Regions from separate parts of the Homo sapiens genome. Here region 1 is linked to region 2. The links come from fine-mapping of genetic effects on gene expression. A gene starts in region 2. The other region holds a variant in brackets. All regions are shown on one strand. Distances are from middle to middle. Region 1 overlaps EEIG2 (EEIG family member 2). Region 2 holds the start of HENMT1 (HEN methyltransferase 1).

Evidence for each region.
Region 1: its variant is fine-mapped to the expression of HENMT1 in whole blood (INTERVAL, PIP 0.99).

Annotation. Positions count from the first base shown.
Region 1 is chr1:108,614,276-108,622,614 of GRCh38, forward strand. EEIG2 (EEIG family member 2) reads left to right here. Exons shown (of 11, transcript NM_001010883.3): 5 at 2,107-2,153. Among named protein-coding and RNA genes, the nearest start is that of HENMT1, 43 kb to the right of the region's middle. The variant C/CA (reference allele first, on the strand shown) is at 4,561.
Region 2 is chr1:108,657,884-108,666,222 of GRCh38, forward strand. HENMT1 (HEN methyltransferase 1) reads right to left here and starts at 3,210. Exons shown (of 8, transcript NM_001102592.2): 1 at 3,080-3,210; 2 at 1,981-2,079. The coding sequence starts at 2,001. It overlaps LOC105378890 (a long non-coding RNA gene), which reads left to right and starts at 6,384. Exons shown (of 2, transcript XR_947679.3): 1 at 6,384-7,086; 2 at 7,867-8,339. RefSeq lists enhancers at 2,929-3,518, 3,519-4,107 and a silencer at 3,174-3,343.

The sequences.
Region 1 (8,339 bases), 44 kb before region 2:
CCCAACTTTTGTTAACTCACTTATTAAATATCTACCCTTGCATGCTGAGCATTGCTGAAGAGAATCACACAACCAGACTAGCTGCCATTACTAAAGCCATGCTCACTGCCATCTGGCAGTCATACTCTACTTCCTTCATATGCTTCCTTTCTCAATTTTAGATATTCTGTCTCATACCTTTTTTCTCCTCGTATCCCAACACATTATTCTTGCTCTCAGATACTGACCTTGCCTTATCCTATTGAGAAAACAGAAGCCATTAAACTCAAATTCCCTCATCTTCCCATCATAGACTTTACCTGCCTCTCCCGCCTTATCCTTTTTGTCTCCTGTTACAATGGATGGCATGTCCCCTCTCCTGTCAGAAGTCAGTCCTTCCTCTTGGCTTCTGGAATCCAAAGTTTGCCTAATCAAGAGCTTTACCCCTTAGACTATCCCCTCTTCTCATCATCTCTACCTCGAATGAATCATCCTCATCAACATATAAAGAAACAGCTCCACTGTTTCCCATATTTATAAAGAAAGACAAAAATTAACCTCTCATCTTCTTCAACTACTGTCCCACATCTCTGTTCTACTTAACTATTCAGTTCCTTAAAGCTGTATGTGCCATCTCCATCTCCTTTCTGAGACATCCGTGATATTCAAGAGTGCAGTTTTGATGGAGTTGGAAAGCAGACCTCAGGGTTCTATGAAAGAAGAGATGATGAGGAAATCAGTGCAGCAGGATAGATTTGGCATTTAAAGAGAAAAAAGAGTCATGGAGGTGCTGGGATGAGGAGATAGGAATGAAATAAGGCTATATAAGATACATGTCATCCATTAGCTGCAGAACATACAACAATGTACATATTCTTGTATTCATTAAGACTATGAATTTTGCTATGTGCAGCCCTGGGATCACATCTCAGCTCTGCCCTTTACTAGTTATCTGGTTTTTAAAATATCACTTAATCTCCCTGAGGTTAAAATGAAAATAATTGCTCTCTCCTAGGAATACTGAAAATTAAAGGAAATAATGCATATTAAACACATAGCTTATGCCTGGCACATAATGAATTCTCAAATCATGATTGTTGTTAATGTTGTTGTTACTATTACCATTATCATTATTATTCCCATAAGAACATAAAGAGGTCCTATGACTGACTGTTAAAGGTAGTCAGCAACTAGAGAATAGCAGCATCTTAGAAAGTATTAGAAAAGCTTTAAATCCTGGTTGGGCACAGTGACTCACACCTATAATCCTAGCACTTTGGGAGGCCAAGGGGTAGGATCACTTGAGGCCAGGAGTTCAAGATCAGCTTGGACAACATAAGCAAGACCTCATTTCTGCAAAAAAAAAAGAAAAAGGAAAGAATTAGCCAGGCGTAGTGTGCACCTATAGTCCCAGCTACTCAGAAGGCTGAGACAGGAAGATCATGAGCCCAGGAGTTTAAGACTGCAGTGATCTGTGATAGCACCACTGCACTTCAGCCTGGGTGACAAAGCAAGACCTTATCTCAAGAATTAAAAAAAAAAAAAAAAAAGTTTTAAATTCTGATCTAAAGCTGGAACAAAGGTCAGAAGCTTTTTACTCTTAGAAGCCACCAGCTGGCATCCCTTGAAACATCAACGTGGCAACTTGAAGGAAAACATTACCAGACACTTAGGTACCACAGGAATTTGGGAGTAAAGACAGATAGATTAGCACAGCCACACACCCACAGGATTATTACTGGTAAATTATTATTGCTATTTGTTTCCATTATTTCCATTCAGATTTTTGCAATTTTGAGGTTTTGAATGTTAAAAATGATTTTAATCTATATGGAGCAGTAATTGAATATTGAATATAACCCACTTCTTCTTTTTTTTTTTTTTTTTTTAATAGAGACAGGGTCTTGCTCTGTTGCCTAGGCGGGAGTGCAGTGGCATGACCATAGCTTACTATAACCTCAAACTCCTGGGCTCAAACAATCCTCCTGCCTTAGCCTCCCGTGGATATAACCCAATTCAACAATCATTTTATTTAATGCTTTCCCAATAGAAAATATCGGACTAAGTGCTGTGAAGGAAGCATTTTATAATTTTTTATAATCGTGATATTTCTTGTTTTATATTTAGGTTTTGATCAGTATGCAACTGATGTCTGGTGACCCATGTTTTAAAACGTAAGTTGATACCCAATAAATGGATTATGTATCTAAAAGTATAAGAAAGATTTATTTGTTTAAATTTTTACATTAATATTTTGTAGTGCTTATAAGAAAATACCAGTTAAGGGATAGTTTCTTCCCTGGGAGACTGACCTGACCCTCTTAGAAGTTATGTTTACCTATTACCAAATGAGTTCTCCATACTCCAAATTATTAATGCTATAGGTCTTTCATCATCTTCGGGTTTTGCGTAAAATTATATAAGCAAAAATTTTTAATACGGCTTCTGTGAACATATTCATTTCTTCAATAAACACCTATTAAGTGCCTTACCATGTGTTAGGCCATATTCTAGATACTAGAGAAACAGCTGTGAAAAAAATAGATTAAGTCCCTGCCATCCTGGAGCTTATATTCTAAGAGGAAAATGGACAATAAGCTAACAAGTAAATATATAATATACAAACGGTTCATAAGCGCTTTGGAGAAAAAGGATGGGAGGGCCATCGTGAAGAGAAGTGTTGCTATTCTATATATAGTAGTCAGGGGAGGCCCCCCCCGGTAAAGATGATATTTGAGTAGAGACCTGAAGGAGGTGGGAAGCAAGTCACACTGGCATTAGGGGGAAGAGTATTTGAGGTAGAGGAAACAAGGACAAAGACCTTGAGGGAGAAGTGTTCTTGGCACGTTCAAGTAGCTGCCTGGAGAGCAGCGGGTCTAAAGCAGAGTGAATGAAGAGGCGGGTGATAGGAGATGAGGTCAGATGATAAGGAGTCTTGTGGCCATTATAAAAAGGACTGCCACTCACACTCTGAGTGAGATAGAAAAGCTATTGGAGGTTTTGAGCAGAGGAGTAAAATTATCTGACTTGTGGCTGCTAGATAGGGAATAGACAATCTGTAGGAGTAACAGAGAGGACAGGGACACAAATAAGTAGATAAAAGGCTGTTTTCAGTAATCCAAGGTTTTAAGCCTGAGTAACTGGAAGAATGGTGCTCTCATTTGTTGAGATGAGAAAGACAAGAGGAACAAATTGGGAGCTTGGGTGTTAGACGTTTTAAATTGGAGATCCCTATTTAACATCCAGCGGGGCATGTCAAGTAGGCAATTGGTGGATAGATCAACTAGAGTCCAGTGGGGAGATCTGGGCAGGAGATAGAAGTTTGGAAATTATTACATCATCAGCATACAGGTAGTAATTAAAGCCATGAGACTTGAATAAGTAACTAGAGGGAACGAGTAGAGATGGAAAAGAACCAGAGACTGAGGTGGGGACACCCCAGCGTGTTAGAGGTCGGGGAGATTGGGAAGAAGAATGAGCAAAGAAACCACCAGTGTGATCAGAGGAGGAAAGCAAAGCAGAGTCCTGTCCTGAAAACCAAATGAAGAAACGGCCTCAGAAAGGCAGGAATAAGCACCTGTGTCACACGCTGCTGGAGTGGGTCTCAGAAAATGAGGACTGAGGATTGACCTTTGGAATTTGCAGTATAGAGACTATTGATGACTTTGGCAGGCACTTTGGTAGAATGCCCTTAGACTAAAGCCTTTTGAGCATGGGTTAAAGAGAGTTTGGGAGGAGAAAAATTGGAGACAGTGAGTATAAACAATTCTTATGAGGGGTTTTGCTATAAAAAAGAAACAGAAAGATGGGGTCATAAGTAAAGAGAGGATTTGGAGTAGGGCAGGTTTTATTCATTTTTAAGATGGAAGATGATATAACATATTTGAGTACCAATAGTATTGGCTCAACAAGAGGGAAAAACTGATGATCCAGAAAAGGGACTGTTGCTAGAACAGCGCCCTTGGATTGTTGGAGGGAGGAAGGCAGAGAACATGGCTACTGACGCAGGTAGAGGAGAAATGGAAGCATATAGAAGTTCTTTTCCAGTTGCTTCTGATTTCTTAGTGAAATAGGAAACAAGATGCTCATTGAAGAGCAAGGACAGGGAAGATAGAGGAAGGGGTTTGAAGAAAGGAAAAGGTGTGCAGAAGTCCTCACAGAGAGTGAGCATGAATGGAACAGGGAAATGCAGGATTGCCTGTCAGCAGCCTTGAGGACACTTAATGATTAAAAGTGAAAGTTCATTGATACCATTGAAATATCTGAGAAAAATACACATAGAAAACTAAAGAAAACATTACCTCCCTATGTATCAACTTCATGTTTTTAATAGCTGTAACTTAGAAAGCAACATTTGGCCGGGCTCGGTGGCTCACGCCTGTAATCCCAGTACTTTGGGAGGCCGAGGCAGGAGGATCACTCTACAAAAAATACAAAAATCAGGCGTGGTGATGCACACCTGTGGTTCCAGCTACTTGGGAGGCTAAGGGGAGGATTGCTTGAGCCTGGGAAGTGGAGGTTGCAGTGAGCCAAGATTGCACCACTATACTCCAGCCTGGGTGACAGAGCAAGCCCCTGTCT[C/CA]AAAAAAAAAAAAAAATCAATTCTTGATTAAAACCACACATCTTCCTATAACTTAGCCTTCCTGTGCTGTCTTCTGATAAACCATGGTTTCCTGACTCCTTTATTTTCTGCTTTCTTGGGATTAAACCAATTTTGCTATACTATTTTTGGTGTCTCAGGTAACTGTTTTTCTATTGGAGTAAGATTTAGGGTAAAATAAGAAAATGAGCAGCAAAACTTAGTAGAAGAAAATAAATTGATCGTTCCTTCTCATGAACTTTTTATGGATATTCCCTTTCTTGCCCTTTCTCTTCCCTTTTCTCTCTCTACTTAAACTCACATATTGAAGAGCTTGAAAGTAGATCATCTAATGTTTTATATTATCTCCATAAATTTAATTCTGACAATCTGGAGTTTATATTTACAGAGAAAGACTTTTGTAATTCATAAAAATAAGCAGACATTACCTAATTCCAAATACATAAAATATTTTTCAAGAGAATCAAACCCTCAGTAGTTTTTCTTTTCTCTTTGAAATTGTTCAAATGTCATTGAAAAAGGGGAAATTCTAACACATTCATACACTTGCACATACTGAATATGTACTGAATAGAAAAACATTTTAACTACTGATGTAAAAAGTAAATTAGTTTTATCAAGTTATATTTAAATATATGTCAAATATGTAAAGTCACATTACTTTAGAGCCGAAAAGAATGTTGGAAGTTGTCTAATCCAGTGATTTTTTTAGACTATTTAGCTACAAAATCCTTTGCTCAAATATATTATGAGGCCAAGCATGGTGGCTTATGCCTGTAATCCCACACTTTGGGAGGCCAAGGCAGGTGGGTCACTTGAGTCCAGGAGTTCACGACCAGCCTGGGCAACATGGTGAAACCCTGTCTCTACCAAAAAATAAATTAAAAAATTAGCCAGGCGTGGTGGTGCGCCTGTCGTCCCAGCTACTCAGGAGTCTGAGGTGGGAGGATCCCTTAAGCCCAAGAAGCTGAGGTTGCAGTGAGCCAAGATCATGCCACTGCACTCCAGGCTGGGTGACAGAGCAAGACCTGTTTCAAAAATAAAGCAAATATATTATGAATCCTAGTATATAAAATTTTACTTTATATCCCCTCCAACTTAGGTAAGATAAGAATAGATTTTCCATTGAGCACACTCCCATACCTACTTCCAGAAGTCCCTAAAGGAGATCATGAAACCAGTTTTAAAAGTGTTGGTGTAATCCAAGTTCTCATTGTACAGATGAGGAAACGGAGTAACAGAGCAATTGTGTGACTTTACTCAGTATCTTTGTCCAGAATGAAGATGTAAATAACTGCTGGAGGGCTTCATTCTACCATTGTCTGCTTTTGTCTATCTTTAAATTTTTCATGATATAAATTGTTTTAAATTTACTTGAGAAACAGGAGTATAGCAGATCCTTAGTCTCAAGTTTAAATCCTAGTTTTAATATTTTCTGAGCAGAAGATCTGTGACATAGATTGTATAATTCTTCTGAAGCACCAATTATATACCATAAGGCCAGAATTTATGAAGAAGACAGCTGGTAAGTCAGCCTAACCACCTACCCTAAACTTTATTGCATAGTTCTCTACAACTCATCAAACACCCACCAACTCTTGTAAAAGAATGAAATTCACTCTGAAAAGTGCTAATAAAGAAAAAAGATATTTTGAGAGAGAAAGTGTATACTCTGCTGGCATTTGGGAATGTGGTGGCAAAGCAGATCTAGGGGTGATATAAGTCTCTTGAATAGCAAGGTTCTGACGCGTTCATATTCCAAAAGGAAGGAAATTATCATTTGTGAAAATGATTTCATGAATGTTACTGTCTCTCAATTCTTAAAACTCTGTAATATAAATATTATCCATATTTTTGAGTGAGGACATCGAGACTAAGAGGTTAAGGAATTAATTCTTCCAGGGTCCCAGGATGCAATCATTCATTCGGTACATGTGTATTGATTGCCTGCCACATGCCAAGACTTAACAAGCTAGAAAAGACCAGCCCCTGCTCTGAAGGGATTCACTGATTACGTGGGAGACAGGCACACAGCATACAGTGTCACTGGGGCACACAGGATAGGATCCCTAGCCACAGTTCTTTGAAAGCCAGGGAAATCTTTACTGAGAAGGGGACACTGAGCTAAGTTTAGGGGATGACTAGGAATTTACTAAGCACAGGAGGTAGGTAGGGACACCCCAGGAGAGAAAACTGTGCACAAGTTTATGCCATCGTTACAGGGCATTGAGTATTTAAGAAATGTCAAATAGGTAATGTTGTCGTTTTATGAGGTCATTTTTCACATATTCTTAACATTACTATAAAGCAATCAAATTAAAGTAATCCCATTTCTTTTTCTATACTTGACCCACATTAAGTGATTTCAGATGAGATATAAAAGCATTTTCAGAACAAAAGGGGTAATGGAACAAAAACTGGCACATGGCAAGCACTCAGTGATTATTTATTCAACAAGACTGAGTTGTCCAGGGAGGTAAGAGAGCTGCCAAGCCCCAGCTAAGATTTTGGATTCTAAATTTGCTTTACTATCAGTCCCCATAGTCAGTGAATTTTCTCCATAATGCTTAGTTGCCCCAGTAATAGAGCAGTTAGTATAGATGGCTGATATTATCAAGGGTTGCAGTTCTTCAGCTTTTTTGAGACCGCAGAACAAGGGGTGCCAAATTGAAGGTGTTGCTTAAAGAGTTGTGGCTGTGGAGTCAGGCTGGAAGGGAGAATGGAGCCAGAGGGAAATAGAGAGGGAAGGGGCCAATGTTTGGGAGTTCTGAGGGTTGGAAAACAGGTCTAAGACATAGAGGGGATAGGGACACTGTAATCAGGTCACCTGTGAAAGAAACTGGCATTAAAAAGGTAAGAATTTTTAGACATGCAGGCATGAGTCAGCCATCAGTGATTAATGACTATGACTGTAGGCTCCATTCTTTGTGTTTCTTCTGTGTATTAGTTTTTCCCATGAAATATTTAATGCAGGGTGTTTTTTTTTTTCCACAAAGCTATTTTACATTATTTGAAAATACAGCCCGAGCGTGGTGGCTCACGCCTGTAATCCCAACACTTTGGGAGGCCGAGGTGGATGGATCACCTGAGGCCAGGAATTCAAGACCAGCCTGGCCAACATGGCGAAACCGTGTCTCTACTAAAAATACAAAAATTAGCCAGGCATGGTGACGGGCACCTGTAATCCAAGCTACTCAGGAGGCTGAGGCAGGAGAATCACTTGAACCCGGGAGGCGGAGGCTGCAGTGAGCCGAGAGTGCGCCATTGCACTCCAGCCTGGGAAATGAGCGAAACTCCGTCTCAAAAAAGAAAAAAGAAAGGAGAAAGAAAATACAGCTGTTGGTAATTGAAGAGGCAGGTCTAGGCCAGACTGCAAGTTCTGAGGGATTTGAGTTTTATGCCGAAGGAGCTATGGAGGGGTTTTAAATAAGAGAGTAACATGTTCAGAGGCAAGTTTCAGAAAGACCACAGTGACAGTAGCATGGAGTAGAGATTGGCAGACCAGCAAGGAGACCCTTGCAGTCAGCCAGGAGAAAGGTACAAAGGCCAAAACTCAAGTAATTAGTGGAGATGGAGAAGAGATGATGAATAGGAAAAATACTAAATGAGGATCTGAGATTTGGAAATTGATTGGACATGGGAAAATGTTATTAGGAAGGAGGCAGAGGTGATATCCGTAATTCTAGTTTTGGTGACTTTGTGGATTGCAATGACATTTACAGAGAGAATACAAGAAGAAAACAGTTTTGGGAAAGATGAGT
Region 2 (8,339 bases):
AAGGGACCTTTTGTGGAGTGAGTCGCCAAAGCCTGTGGTCCAAGTAGGCAGGAGGCTGGAAAATATTTATAATGACTGACTATATATATATACACACACACATATATATACACACACACACACACATATATGTACACACACTTACACACACACACATATATATACACACACACACACATATATATGTACACACACACACACACACACACACATATATACACACACACACACACACATATATATATATATATTTTTTTTTTCCCCCCAAGACGGAGTCTTGCTCTGTCACCCAGGCTGGAGTGCAGTGGCGCGATCTCAGCTCACTGCAACCTCCGCCTCCCTCAATTCAAGCAATTCTCCTGCCTCAGCCTCCCGAGTAGCTGGGATTACATTACAGGCATGCGCCACCATGCCTGGCTAATTTTTGTATTTAGTAGTGACGGGTTTCACCATGTTGGCCAGGCTCTTCTTGAACTCCTGACCTCGTGATCCACCCGCCTTGGCCTCCCAAAGTGCTGGGATTACAGGTGTAAGCCACCACACCCAGCCAACACTCTTTTTAAGAGAGAGAGAGGATCTCACTATGTCGCCCAGGCTGGTTTAAAATTCCTGGGCTCAAGCAATCCTCTGGCCTCGGCCTCCTGAGTAGTTGGGCATCTGTAGGAACATTCCAACACACCAGCAAAAGACTCTCTCACTGACCAAACTTCAGTCAGGTTCCTCTGAGCCATCTTCTTGAATAGACCTCAAACCCTGGCCCCAATCCTATCTTTGGGCTGCCTAGCCCAGTTTTAATAAGAATACTTCTAAGTCAGTTTAGACAGAATCTTCTACCCCTGATATCTGATCACCCTATCTGGTCAAATTCTTCATCTTTGCAATGTTCTTATTGCAACAGTCCTCAATAAAGTCAGACTAATTTTTTCTTTAACATGACCCCAAGAAAAAACAGAATTTATAAGATTAATCTGTAATAGCTGTTACTATTCCTATACAGCAGTATTATAAAAGTAGTCCAAAGGGTATTTGATATCTGATGTAGCACTGTCCAATAGATAAAATACAAGTAGGCAACTTTCTTGTAGCCCAAGAATTGGAATTATAATCGGAATTAGAATATTTAAACCAATATATCGAAAATATAATTTTTACATAAAATCAATATAAGAGATTTTAGATTCTTGTTTTTCACATTAAGTCTTCAAAATCCAGTGTGCTACATATTTTGTACTTCTGCGTCTCAGTTCCAAAACCTTCATCAGAAATACTTGTCTGTATTGGATTTAAAAACTTTACATTTAAAATATACATGCACATACCCAAGTTATTCCAAACATACTTTTTTCCAATAATGTAATCAAATATCCAATTTTAAACTTAAAATTAAAAATGAAGTTATGAGCCCAGGTGGTCAGCGTTGCAGTTAACCGTGACTGGGCAAGTGCATTCCAGCCTGGGCAACAGAGCAAGACCCTGTCTTAAAAAAAAAAAAAATTAAAGTTCGGTTCCTCAATTCCACTAGCCACATTTCAAGTGCCCACTTGCCATGTGTAGCTACTGGACAGCAGGGAGCTACACCCTAGGTACTCCCAATGTGGTTTCCAAACCAGTGGCATCTTCACCTAGAAACTTTAGAAACACAAAAGCTTGGGCCTCACCCTAGACCTCCTTAAACAGAATCTGCAACTTAACAAAATCCCCAGGTGATCCATATACACAACCACATTGGGGAACACTACTTAGAGTGTTTTTAAAATAGATTTTGCTACTTTAACACCTAGTGATAAAAGTAAAAACATTTATTTTACTTACATACACCAAATGTGACTCTTTCATCTATGTATACCCTTGTTTACCTCAACCAACACCCCGGGAAATGCTAGGACCTAAATGTGATCAATTTTGTTTGCAATTATCTCACAATACATCCAGGTGATAATTCTTAAGAGTCAAAGACGCAGCTAAGAAGGGTGGCATTACCTGTAGATTATTTTCTTCCATTTTGTTTCGAAGTTTTGTTGAAACAAAAATGAAGATTTATCCTTCAAGCTCTATTTGAGAGAATCAGCACTGACTCAGCTGTAATAAATACAAAACCGTTTTTGTAAAGCGATACCTGAAAGAAATAGCTGCCTAGTTCAGAAGGGAAGAACGAAAGCCTCTTTCTTACTCCTTACTACAGTATATAATTTAAATAGAACGCTTAAAAGTAAATAATGAATTCACCTCTGAGTACTCAAAAAAAAAAAAAAAAACACGAAAGCAGGACTCGAACAGATATTTATACACCGAAGTTCATAGCATTATTCACAATAGCCAATCTGTGGATTAAATGTGGACTACCATTTAATCCACAGAATGTATCCAGTATTTTTTCAGACATTCGCAAACAGGCTCAGAAAGCGTAACTTTTCACTACGTCAAACCCTACTAAGAGCGAAAACAGCCATCCTTTCCCTTTACTATCATGAATAGTTCAACTAGATACAAACGGAGCAATCTTAGGAGTTCTGCCCATTTCATTGCTAAGACCCTCAACTTCAAATTTTTTCAAAAATTTTTCCACACATCGTCAAAATGAAATTTCGAGGGGGAAAAAAAGTGTCCTTGATAAACTAGAGATGCTCCAACATCTATTCAATTCACTCACGAACTTGAATTTAAATTTTAGTTCTCTATTGCACATGTGTCTCCAACAACTAGACTTTAATCTGGAATCTAGGCAACATGTTAGTCACCAACTTGTATTAAGAAACCCTGGCCGGGCGCGGTGGCTCACGCCTGTAATCCCAGCACTTTGGGAGGCCGAGGCGGGCGGATCACGAGGTCAGGAGATCGAGACCATCCCGGCTAAAACGGTGAAACCCCGTCTCTACTAAAAATACAAAAAATTAGCCGGGCGTAGTGGCGGGCGCCTGTAGTCCCAGCTACTTGGGAGGCTGAGGCAGGAGAATGGCATGAACCCGGGAGGCGGAGCTTGCAGTGAGCCGAGATCCCGCCACTGCACTCCAGCCTGGGCGACAGAGCGAGACTCCGTCTCAAAAAAAAAAAAAGAAAAAGAAAAAGAAACCCTGCTCACTGAAACCAACGCTTCTGTCTTTGTACGGGCCGTCGCTTCCATCATCCTGCGGTAAGCAGCATGCCCAACCGAAAAAACAAAGCTCGTCGCGGAGCCGCCAGCGTCCTCAACTCAGCGCCGCCCTGACGCCCGCGCACGCACGGCCTCGCTGCGTGACGCTACCGCCGCGGCTACGCCGGCGCCCGCACCCGCGCCTCGGCCTCCCCGCGGGGCTCGCCAACCTCGTGCGCTCTCACGGTCGGCCTTGGGCCCCGGGAGCCTCATGGTGCGCCGAGCTCCGTCCCTCTAGGCTCTCAGTTCCAAGGCGTCGGTTTTGCGTCTCGTAACGGCCGCTGTGGCGCATGCCCAGAAGCCATTTTCAAGGTCCTCTTCCGAACCTTGGCGAGGACCCCTGCGCCTGCCGCGCCGTTGACCCCGCTAGCGTGCGGCTGCGACGCGGCACGGTACGGCAGCTGTTGGCGAAGGCCCCCAACTCCGAGCGCGTCCGCAGACCGCGAGCCGGAAGGCGGCTTGGGCGGCTGTTGAGTTCGTGGCGCTCCCGAGGCGTGGCAAAGGCCTAAAAACGGTCCTGGCCAGCGGAAGGCGGCAAGAGGAGCAGCAAGGCTCCACGCGAGGCGGCCGGCGGCTGGAGTCCCAGTCAGCCTCCGCTTTCATCCCAGAGCAGTCCACGGGGGCCTTAAAGGAATGTAGGCTGGGTGAAGTTGGCCCAGTGACACCTGCGTTCAGAAAAACGTTCTTTCCGCTCCCAACGCCCCCTCTCCACCGCCACCCGACCCCCGAAATAGTTTTCCCCGAGTGTTGTGGATAGAACTGTTGATCTCTTGGAAAAGTTATTGTATCCTGCCATCCTTCCCTCTGGAGACTCCACTTAATATATATAAGTACTTTCTTTCCTGTATATGATGGAAGAGTATTAGGGGGGTGAGGGGAGGGACGAAGCTGCCTTCTTTAGGGAAAAAAGATTGACTTATATTTTGAAAGATGCAAAAGCTGGTGTTTTTGCTACTGAATTAATAGCCTATTAATATGCCACAAATGATATATTGGAACTGTATTTTCAAACATTTAACGCCTGCTGTATGCAAAGCACTATGCTGACAGCTTAAGGGTACCACAATGATAAATTACACCAATCTTGTTTTTGGCATTTTGGGGAGTCTAGTGTCATAGGTAAAGAAGTACATAACTAACAATAAGCTTCAAAAATTCAATCATAAGGCCCGGCACCGTGGCTTCCGCCTGTAATCCCAGCACTTTGGGGGATCACTTGAGCCCCGGAGTGTGAGACCCCGTCTCTACCAAAAAAAAAAAGAAATTAGCTGGGCATGGTGGTGCCTGCCTGTGGTCCCAACTGTTTGGGAGGCTGAGGCCGGAGGATCACTTGACCCCAGGAATCTGAGCCTGCAGTGAGCTATGATTGCACCACTGCACTCCAGTCTGGGCGACAGAACCAGACCATGTCTAAAAAGAAAAAACACTCAGTGATAATTTCACATTACAGTTTGAGAGGTTCCTGTTGACTTGGGGAAACTAGTTTTAGCAGACTTCATTAAAGGAGTGTACACCTTACTACAGGATGTAATTTAAAATAGAATGTTTAAATAATAAATTCACTTCTGGGTATATACTCAAAGCAGGAATTCAAACAGGTATTTGTACACCAAAGTTCGTAACAGCATTATTCACAGTAGCCAAAATGTGGAAACAACCCAAATGTCCATTAAAGGATGAATAAACAAAATGTGATATACATACAATGGAATATTCAGCCTTTATTTTTCCAATCAGAGTTTCAGGAAAATCAACCTTTAAAAGGAGTGAAATTCTGACATTTGCTGCCACATGGATGAATCTTGATGATGATATGCTGAGTGATATATAATCAGTCACGGAAGGACAAATACTGCATGATTCAATTTATATCAGGTACCTAGAGTAGCCAAATTCATAGAGACAAAGTAGAATGGTGGTTGCTACGGGCTGAGAGGAGGAGGGAATTGAGAGTTGTTTAATGGGTGATGGAAAAGTTTTGTAGATAGGATGGTTGCACTGAATGCCACTGAACTTAAAAATTGTTAAAGTGGTTTTATGTATATTTACCACAGTTTCAAAAATTTTAAGGAAAACATAAAAGCTATCATCTATACAGCATTCCTGGATCTAGGGTTTTTGCCTCCCCTGCTGGTTAGCCCATTTATGAACTTGAGCTCCTCATGTCCATTCCCTCTCCAAATTTGCCTATTTCATCATTCTCCTGGCCTCCTACTCTTATTAGAGTCTGAAAAATCATCCTTGGCTCTGTCCATTTTTGTCCTTCCCACACTTGGACAATCACCAAATTTTGACTTCTTCAAGCTGTCATCTACCATCTGTTCCTTCCCACAGCTAATAGCTTAGCCTTGTCATCTCATTTTGTCATTATAACTCATCTTTCCTTCGTACACAAGGTAAGTCCTACTGAGTTATAGACCATGTAACGTCTTTTAGAGTGGATTTTAAGTCAAATAGGCCTTAAATCCAGATTTTACTATTACTGCATAACCTTTGGAAGTTGCATCCTCTCTGAGTGTTAGGGGGTTTTTTTAAGTTAAAAAATGAGAAATGATTACTTATTTGGTAAATGTGTATAGAGTATTTATTATGGATCAAGTACTTGTTTGAATTTAAAAGACAGATAAAGATCCTTTCATAGCTTTTACAGTCCAGCAGGTGTAGGTGTCTGGCACACAATAGGTAATCAAGAGTTATCCTGGGCTGAGTGAGGTGGCTCATGACTGTAATCCCAGCAGTTTGGGAGGCTGAGGCAGGAGGATGGCTTGAGGCTAGGAGTTCAAAACCAGCCTGGGCAACATAGCGAGACCTGTCTCTACAAAGAAAAAAAACATTATCTGGCCATGCTGGCGGGCACCTGTACTCCTAGGTACTCAGGAGGCTGAGGCAGGAGGATCGCTTGAGCCTGGGAGTTTGAGGCTGCAGTGAGCTGTGATCATGTCACTGCACTCCCTGGGCAACAGAGTGAGACCCTGTCTAACAAAAAATTAATTTCAAAATTTAAAATATTTTTTAATATTTTAAAACGGAGTCTGGTTCTGTCACCCAGGCTGGAGTGCAGTGGCGTGATCTCGGCTCACTGCAACCTCCACTTCCCAGGTTCAAGCGATTCTCCTGCCTCAGCCTCATGAGCAGCTGGGATTACAGTCACGCACCACCATGCCCAGCTAATTTTTGTATTTTTAGTAGAGACAGGGTTTCACTATGTTGGCCAGGCTGGTCTCGAACTCCTGACCGCAAGTGATCTGCCCGCCTCAGCCTCCCAAAGTGCTGGGATTCCAGGCGTGAGCCATCGCGCCTGACAAAATTTTTTAAGTTATTCTGGATGCCAGTTTGAGCCTGATGCTTAACAGGATGGAATATTTGGAGGTCTTGAGAAGAGGGTGATTGTATATTCCATGTAAGAGGAATGTAAATAGTTTGTGTCTAGAAGGAAGATTGTAACAGATTAAGATGTACGAATTCCTTCTCACCTATTGAGAGAAACGGGGTCTATTTCTTTTCCTTTTGAATCTATATGGGTTTTGTGATTTCACCAATGAATAGAATACCTCTGCCAGTTTTTGGGCCTAGGACTTAAGAAACTGGCAGCTTCTACTTCCTGTTTTTTAACGCATCCACTCTTGGAACCCAAATGACAATCTGCGAAGAAGACTAAGGGGCCCCACGGAGAGGCCCACATGGAGAAAACTCAATCCCCCCTCACCCGCTATCCCAGGCTGTCAGCCAGCACCACCTTGTCTTGCCAGCCATGTGAGTGAGCCATGTTGGAAGTGAATCCTCCAGGCCCGGTGAGCCATTTAAACTGACTGAAGACAGCAGCTCTGTCCATGTGCACAGAGAGTGGGAAGTGCCTGAAAATTTACATTTTCCTAGGTAGTGCTTTGCTAATGACTGACCGGTGTGGATGTATAAAAGTCCAGCTCCGTGATCTCAGACTTCCGGCCTCCAGAACTGTAAGAAAATAATTTTTTGTTGTTTAAGCCATCCAGTCTGTGGTATTTTGTTACAGCTACCCAAGCTGACTGATAACACTGAATTATGTACATAACTGAATAACCACCTATGGAGCAATAAGAGCACATTTGGAGCATCTTCTCTACCAAGCAAGAAACAAAAACGTTCTCACCTTATCAATATTCTACAAGTTAACCTCTAACTTCTCAGGGTTGTTAACTGTTTGGACTCTCTTGTTTGTAGGGAGTGACTCAGAGAAAGTTAGAGTCCCCAAGAGAGCCATATGCCTGAGAGACAGGCTTAATTCTCTGGCATGTTACTAAAATGTCAGCCATGTGCAGTGGCTCATGCCTGTAATCCCAGCTCTTTGGGAAGCTGAGGCAGGAGGATTGCTTGAGGCCAGGAGTTTGAGACTAGCCTGGGAACGGCCCTTGTCTCCAAAATTAAAAATAAATTTTTTTTAGAAAATGTTAAATACTGTGAAATAATCTATTTCCAAGTGTTGGATATTTTTTCTGCACAGTAGTGAAATTATTGCTGGCTGTCTCGGTGTAAGAATGGCCATTGAGCTGCCTCATATCCTGATGGGAAGGTGCAGGGCCAGAAGTTGAATCACACTATGAGTGTGTTTTATGGGCCAGCTGTGAACCTATGAAAGTAGCAAAGAAGAAATAAGATTTGAAAAGCATGATTCCAAAAGAGTCTGGAAAATTCTTCCAGTTGTCAGACATGCAAAGTTGTAATTTCATATCCATAATTCTTTATGCTTTTTCTTATAGCAGGCCCTGACATTGTATAAGCTTCAGGCCCCACAAAACCTGGATCTGCCCTGCCAGGATCAGCATCTAGAGGAAAACTACTACTTCCACAATAGCACAACCAATCTGATCATCCCTGCATCAGTGAGCATTCTCCAGAGAAACAGAGCCAACAGGATATGTGTATATATGTGAAGAAAGACTTATTTTAAGGAGTTGGCTCATGCAATTATGGAGGTGCAAGTCCAAAATCTGTAGGGCAGGCAGATGGGCAGACTGGAGACCCAGAGAAGAGTTGCAGTTCAAGTCCAAAGTCGGTTGGAAGAATTCCCTCTTGCTGGGTAACACTGGGGAAGCAGGAGTAGATGGAAAGGGGAGGTGTCAGGCTTTGCTCTACCAAGGACTTCAACTGATTGGATGAGGCCCAGTAACATTATGGAGGGAAACCTGCTTTGCTCAGAGTTTACTGATTTAAATATTAATCTCATCCACAA